2 linked regions of the Homo sapiens genome follow. The protein of the gene in region 1 interacts with the protein of each later gene in a pairwise test. Each region holds a gene or a part of one and is shown on either strand. Other genes may lie near its edges.

Region 1 (3,660 bases):
AGCCCTGGAGATAGATCAGGAGGTATGGAGCCCTGTAGGGCATATAAAAGACTTATTTTATCCTAAATGTATTGGGAAATTTTCAGGGGCTTAAGCATTATCTTCTTCATGTTTTAAAGGAAAAACCTGTTAATATTTGTGGAATACTGATTACAGGCTAGGCACACCTTAGCCATTTTTCATGCAAAATGATCTTTGGCATAAGATAATTGTGATTTTACAGATAAGGAAAATGAAGTTTAGAGATCTTGAGTAACTTGTCTAAAGCCACATAACACGTAACTAACAGTGGTAGATGCTACTGTTTATCAGAAATAAAAAGTTAACTTAGCAAAGGAGACTTTTAGAGTGAGTGGCCAAAAAGGTCAGAGGGATACAGGTGAATGTTGTGTCACTAAAGTCAAAATAAAAAATATTTTAAGAAGGAAAGATAGGTGAGTTTTTCTAATGTAGCTAGAGAACTCATGCCGATATTTACAAGAACTTATTTCTTAACATCCTAGTAGTGTAGGTTGTGTGTTATGATAGAGTCATTTACAAAATCACATGGCTGTATCTTTTGTAGCTGAGAGTGAAGCAAAAGTAAAAACCAAAGTTCGCTTTGAAGAATTGCTTAAGACCCACAGTGATCTAATGCGTGAAAAGAAAAAACTGAAGAAAAAACTTGTCAGGTCTGAAGAAAACATCTCAGTAAGTAAATGATCATTGGGTAATAGTGATTTACATATGCGCATAAAATGCAGATATGGCTGCATTTTATGTTAAAATTCTAAGGAATTTTGAAAATTAAAAACAGTAACACTATGTCATGGTCAATAACATGTGGTAAAAATAAAGTTTATATTAGAATCAACATCACTGTGAGAATATTGACTTCATTCTTGAGTGCTGTCCTACAGGAAGAACACACACACAGTGGGGAAAATGACCAGAGATAGTGGGGAAACTCAAAACTAGCCATGATAACATTTTTGAAGAAAATATTTTTAACCCAGAATTGTGAAGAACTTAGGAAGTAGTATCTTAACTTCAGATATTGAATAGCTTGTGCTTATTTAAACTATTTCTGTGTGATTCTACCCAACAGAACCAGGAGAAATCAATGGCCGTATGGTAATAATTATCCTTTTATGTTTGAGGCACACTTTCAAATGATAGAATCTTTGGCAGCACACTTGAAGGAATTAAAAATACAGTGCTCAAAGACTAAGCAAATCAGCAACTAACTACAACCTGATCCCCTTGGAATCATAAAGAGTCTGTATTGGCATCCACAGTTAATGCTCTATGCCCTCTTTATACCTATCTCCCTACTTGAGTTGCACTTTTTACTACTTTGACCATTATCTCTTCTGTCCTCACAGAAAAAAATAAACAGGCTCTTGTGTAAATGGTACATAGTTTTTTTTTTTTTTTTGGCAGGAGTTTTATAATGAGTTATAATCCTACATTTTGCTTGTAGTAAGATTTACCCCATTTTTTCTTAAGACCTGTTCATTTTAGTATTCTGTCTGGCAGATGTCAATGTAACAATATAAATTCTGAAGTGAGGCAAAAACAAGTAGTAAAATTGACCAAAATCCAGCTGCACATATGTGAGGGTTCATAGTGTATACACTGGTGTACGACTGCACAAAAATTTCGAACTACTGACAGAATGGACAGATTAGCACTCCCATAGTGATTGCTGCTCTGAAATAGCATGTGCTTTTTCTGGTGGTACTAGTGCACAATATGGTAGGGAATAGTGACATGGAGGATGAAACATTGCTTATTGATATATGCGCTCCCCTCAGATGGAGTGGTTTATGTTGGGCAAAAGCAAAAAGAACCCTGGAAACAGTTGTCTGCAGAGATGTTTTATGCTCAGAGAAGAACCTCATATTGTCTCTTAGTATTAAAGAACTGGGAGTTGTGAGCCATGAACAAAATGCAATTTAGACCAAGGTTTAAATTAAATGGATAATCAGAATAGGCAGAGGCTATGTCCATTTACCTAAGGTCCAGTTTAAATGTTGAGGGGCACATAAGTGTGAGGTGACTAAGCATAATTTATCCAGCCTCTCTTTGCAAACACCAGGACTGAATAGGCTTCTTTTCTTTCAGAAATAAGTACACTAGGAACAAATATTTGGGAAGATATTTCGCAGCTCAAAAGAACAGGAATATTTCTAAAGGACTTAGAGGAGAACAAAATATTTTTGACATGATTAACTTGAGGAAGTAAAAGAGGAATAGCTGCTTTCATTTGCTAGATGCCTTAATGCTTTCTATCTTTAGGCACTCTTCTAAACACTTTATATATATTTAGTCGTTTAATACAAACGACGAAATTACAGGGTTTTATTTCTGTACAGGAGAAAACTACATCAGAAGTTAAGTAACTTGCTGAAAGTTACATAGTAAATGGTAGAACCAGGATTCAAACACTGAGTGGAAGTGCAGAATCCACTGCCTTAACCACAACCCAATATTATCTATTTTAATGAAATTTGAAAAGATAGGACTTCTTCTTGAAAGAAGAACAGGGAGTCCTATGTACAGAACAGGCTGAGATGAGAAATGGAGCAGTCTGAAATAAAATTAAGCGAGGAAAAAAGTCAAAATAGGGATTCATAATAATGGCAGGTTCATCTTATATTCCAGTTATATATAAGGCACAATAATAAGAGTTTTACAAATATTATTTCTAAATCTCATGTTAATCATGCAAGATAGATATTGGGATTCTTTTTTTGCACATGAGAAATTTTATAAACAGACAAACAGACATGTTAGGTGATTTCCTTAGGTCATTTAGTCTAAAATAGGATAAGTGGGATTTAAGACCACAGTCTCTGCAATTTTAAAGTTCATGTTCTTCAGTTGCTTCCTTAAAACTATATCTCAGGCCTAAAATGATGGAATTGACACTACGGAAAAATCTAATCAGTGAAGTGGGAGACAAATTCGAGGTGGGAAGAAATGACCAAAACTAAAATGAAAGAAATAAATGATGAGGACATAGAAAGATATTTGACCCACAAATAAGTATCCCGGGACAGTACTAGTGGAGCAGAAACAATAATGAGCATGATGAAGAAACCTTGCTGAGATTTCTGAAGAGATGAGTCATCCTGCATTCCAGGCAAAATTTATGAGATGAGAACTATATCTAGAAAATTCTTTTGTTTGTATCTTAAGAGTCAAATATTGCAGACACCTAAACACAAAAACATATAGTACATTTGAGACTTCTCTGTAAAAACACTAAATCCAAAAGACAATGGAGAAATATTTAGAGCACTAAGAGAAAAATTGTAGCCTGAGGAATCTGGTCACCTAAGTTGTCAGTCATTTGTGATGGTAGTTGTAAACATATGTGCATTATTAGAGAAATATCAGTGTTCCCTCCCTGGAAAAAAAAAAAGATTTAAGATTTATTAAAGATGTAGTACCATTTCTAGATATGAATCAAAGTTAAGAATTTAAGAATAGAACATCTTAAGATCTTAGAGGAAGGGATGAAGAGAAGTTGGTTAAGGAGTACAAAAATATAGTTAGAAGGAATAAGTTCTAGTAGTCAGTATTACAGTAGGGAAATTACAGTTAATAATTTATTGTATATTTCAAAATAGCCAGAAGAGAAGATTTATGTTCCCAACATAAAAGATAAATGCT
Region 2 (3,660 bases), on another chromosome or scaffold:
TAACATAACTGAATAATAACAAAATTTATCATGATGACCACCTTTAAAAATATTTTCATAATAATGTATCTATATCCAGCATTATCTATACATTAACCTTAGTCAAATTGTCATTGTTTATACTAGAGAAGTGCCGTAGTGTAGTTTTAAAAAGAATTGTGAATTTATACCTAGAAAAGTAGTTTAAAAACCTGTCTTTGCTGCTTACTAACATTAACCTTGGAAAGTTACTTAGCCTTTCTGACCCTTGGTGAACTAATCAGTAAATGGGAAAAATAATACACAGCCCACATGCCTGACTGGGTTGTTTAGAAGATTAAATTAGATATGGGTATGAGAGTGCTTTAAAAATTGCTGAAACATGTAATTACAGGTTGAGCATCCCAAATTTGAAAATCTGTAATTCACCATACTCCAAAATCCGACATGATGCCCAAAGGAAATGCTCATTGGAACATTTTTGGATTTCAGATTTTTGGATTGAGATGCTCAACTACTAAGTATATAATGGAAATATTCCAAAATCCAAATTCTGAAACACTTCTGGTTCCAAACATCTAAGATAAGGGCTATTCAGTGTGTACTAATATACAATGTTATTGAGTACTTATTGTATGCCAACCACTGTTTTGCTCAACTACTTTAACTTCCTCTTTCTAGGGCAATGTGTCAGTATTCCCTGAAGCCCCCTTCAACTCGTAAAATCTACTCTGAGTAAGATCTTTTTTAAGTCTTCGTTTTGCATAGTGGAATCAAGGATTAAGAATCAAAGAAACCATATTAAATAAGTCAGGATTGAACAATAATCTCTTTTTTTAAAACTGGCAAGTAATAAATGTACATATTCATGGAGTACCTAGTGATATTTTGATACATATACTGTACAGTGATTAGAACAGTTTAATTAGCATATCCATCATCTCGAACATTTTATCATTTCTTTGTGTTGGAAACATTGAGTATCCTTCTTCTAGCTATTTGAAACTATGTATTATTGTTAACCATGGTAGTCATCCTATAGTGGTATAGAACACTAGAACTTACTCCTCCTATCTAGCTATAATTTTGTATCTTGTAACAAATCTCAGCTTGTCCCTCATTCCCGTCTACCCTTCCCAGCCTCCAGTACCTTCTGTTCTACTTTCTACTTCTATGAAATCAACTGTTTTTAGCTTCCACATATGAGTGAGAACATGCGATGTTTAACTTTCTGTTGCTGGCTTATTTCACCAGCATCCATCCATGTTCCATCCATGTTGCCACAAATGACATGATTTTATTTGTTTTTATGGCTGAATAGTATTTCATGGTGTATATATACATTTTCTTTATCCATTCATCTGTGAACACTAATCTCTCTTACAACCAGCTTTGGGATATCAATCGTATAATACATACTAAATTTGAGAAACTGACCTGAATAATTTTCTCGAATTTTTTTGAGAAATAATAACAACTTTCTGGAATAATTATCAATCACGTCATTTTTATCTCCAGTAGAAATTTGTCCCCAGGTATTACCTGATACTTTTTAATAATCAGTATCCATGATTCTTACTTATTTTTTAAGTAAAAATAATAAAATAATAAAGAAGAGTTTTAGAGAAATGCAGACTTTTAATAGTTCAGGATACTCTTTCCAGAGGTTTCTAACCTCAGCAGTTCTTTGCAGATATTTTATTTGTAGATTTTAATGTTGTTTTAATTAAGTTACTCTTTTTAGGGAAAATAATTTATAAAATTTTATTTATTTTCAAATATGCTGTTTTTAAATAAGCAAGACCCTGTGAATCAGTTTGAAAGTGTAACTTTTTATTAAACATTTAAATCTATTATTTGATTTGCTTATTAACTCTTCCCTTATATTTGCTTATTCAGTAATTTAGTTACTTGCTACTTACATTTGGTATTAATTCACTAATTTCAGCTAATTAAAATCAAACGTACAATAATATCCTAATTTTCTTGTAATAGCTACTAAAATATAGTTATAATAGAGAAGTGTGTTCAAGTAGTTAAAAATTACCACAAGATTTATGTTCACAAATTTTCCTATGAGAATTTTTCGTCTCCAAACGTTTTGAGAGAAAAAATAAATTTTTCTGCTTAGTAAATTTCTCAACCTTAAAACAAGATGCTGGCCTAGGGCTAGGAGAGGACTTCTTAGTTGAAGCTCCTGCTTCTCTGGACAACTTTCCTCTTCCTTCTTGCAAATGCTTTGCAGAGGGACTTGCACCTCTGCTGCTGGACCTGGTCAGGAGCAAGAGGAAATTTAAAACATTCCTCGGGAGTGCTTGCTCCCAGTGGATTGCATTTGATTGCGCCTTGTCCTTCGTTGCTTTCTTTTTGTGTTGTTTAATTCTGCTTGTTTTTTACTGCTATGGATGTTGCAGATATCTGTGAAATTTTACTCTATTAGGTCATCACCTTTAGTAAATATTTATCCTTGCATAATTTGAGAAGGTAGACATGTTTGTTTTGTAATATTCCCCTTAGTAATATGAGATAGAAGTACATTGGTAATGGTAGAGATAGATATTTCTAATTAGGTACTAATGTTTCTTACAGTTTTCAGAATAAGTAAGGAATAATTTTTATGCTATATATTGCCTTCCTTTTACAGTGAAGAAGAACTGTTGTATCTGAGTTTCATTGAAGATGTAACAGATGAAATTTTGAAACTTGGTTTATTTTCAAACAGGTTAGTTTTTTTAATGGTGTTATGTTAATTCAGGAGTACATTAAATATTCTTCATATTTCTTCATATGATGTTAAAATTTTAAAGTTATTTTCCCATATTAGGAAATGAAAAAATATATTGCTTTCTTGGAAACTTATTATTATAATTGATAGCAAGTTGTAAAGAATGTTTAATTCATACTCTAGGGGAAGTTCACCACTTGGGAGAATTAAAGAATAGAGCTTTTATTCATTTTAATATTATATCCCTTGAGTTATAAGTGACTAGTGAAGGAAGATCTTTATCACTTATTTGCAAAGCTCCATAATCCCATTTTACTACCTAAAATTGTCATGAGAATCAAAAGCAAGCATTTTTGGTGCAACCATTATTAGTATTAGATCTAGTAAAATGAGAACAAATTAAGAGCTAGGTTTGCACGCTGTAAGTTAAATGGAAAGTTTGCAAAACCAGATTAGCTATTGCATAGCTTAAGGAAACTGTGTGTCCTGAATTTTGCTTGAACATTTATGTATCTAAGATTCATTGAGCACTGAGCTCTACTTTGTGTTATGTAACCTAGGACCCTATTATGTATACTACTTGCTTTCTCTGTCATAATAATATGCCAAGCATAGACATTTTTAATAAATTATTTCTATCCTCTACATCAAGTTTTTTAAAAAATTAAAGCAAACATTTTCATTATTGGTATAAAAAGGCATATCAAAAAGACCTAAGATTTTTGGCATTAATTCTGTTGACCCCTTTCATTTTAAAAAGTTGGTTAATAATATTTGCATAATATGGGTAAAGAGTTTCAGGATACATAATGAAAAGTTTTGGCAATCTGTATCACAATATGAATATACCTAACACTGCTGAATCGTGCACTTAAAAATGGTTAAGATGATAAGTTTGGTTAGTTTTTGCCACCACAAGAAAAAAAGTACACATACAAAATCATATGTATTTATGC

The links.
Region 2: the proteins of AHI1 (region 1) and SPATA7 interact in a protein complementation assay, tested with the Homo sapiens proteins (one study listed by IntAct).

Annotation. Positions count from the first base shown.
Region 1 is NC_000006.12:135,487,653-135,491,312, reverse strand, and holds part of AHI1 (jouberin), read left to right. Parts: intron 1-565; coding exon 566-690; intron 691-3,660. UniProt on the Homo sapiens protein: Involved in vesicle trafficking and required for ciliogenesis, formation of primary non-motile cilium, and recruitment of RAB8A to the basal body of primary cilium.
Region 2 is NC_000014.9:88,430,512-88,434,171, forward strand, and holds part of SPATA7 (spermatogenesis-associated protein 7), read left to right. Parts: intron 1-660; coding exon 661-714; intron 715-2,623; coding exon 2,624-2,701; intron 2,702-3,660. UniProt on the Homo sapiens protein: Involved in the maintenance of both rod and cone photoreceptor cells.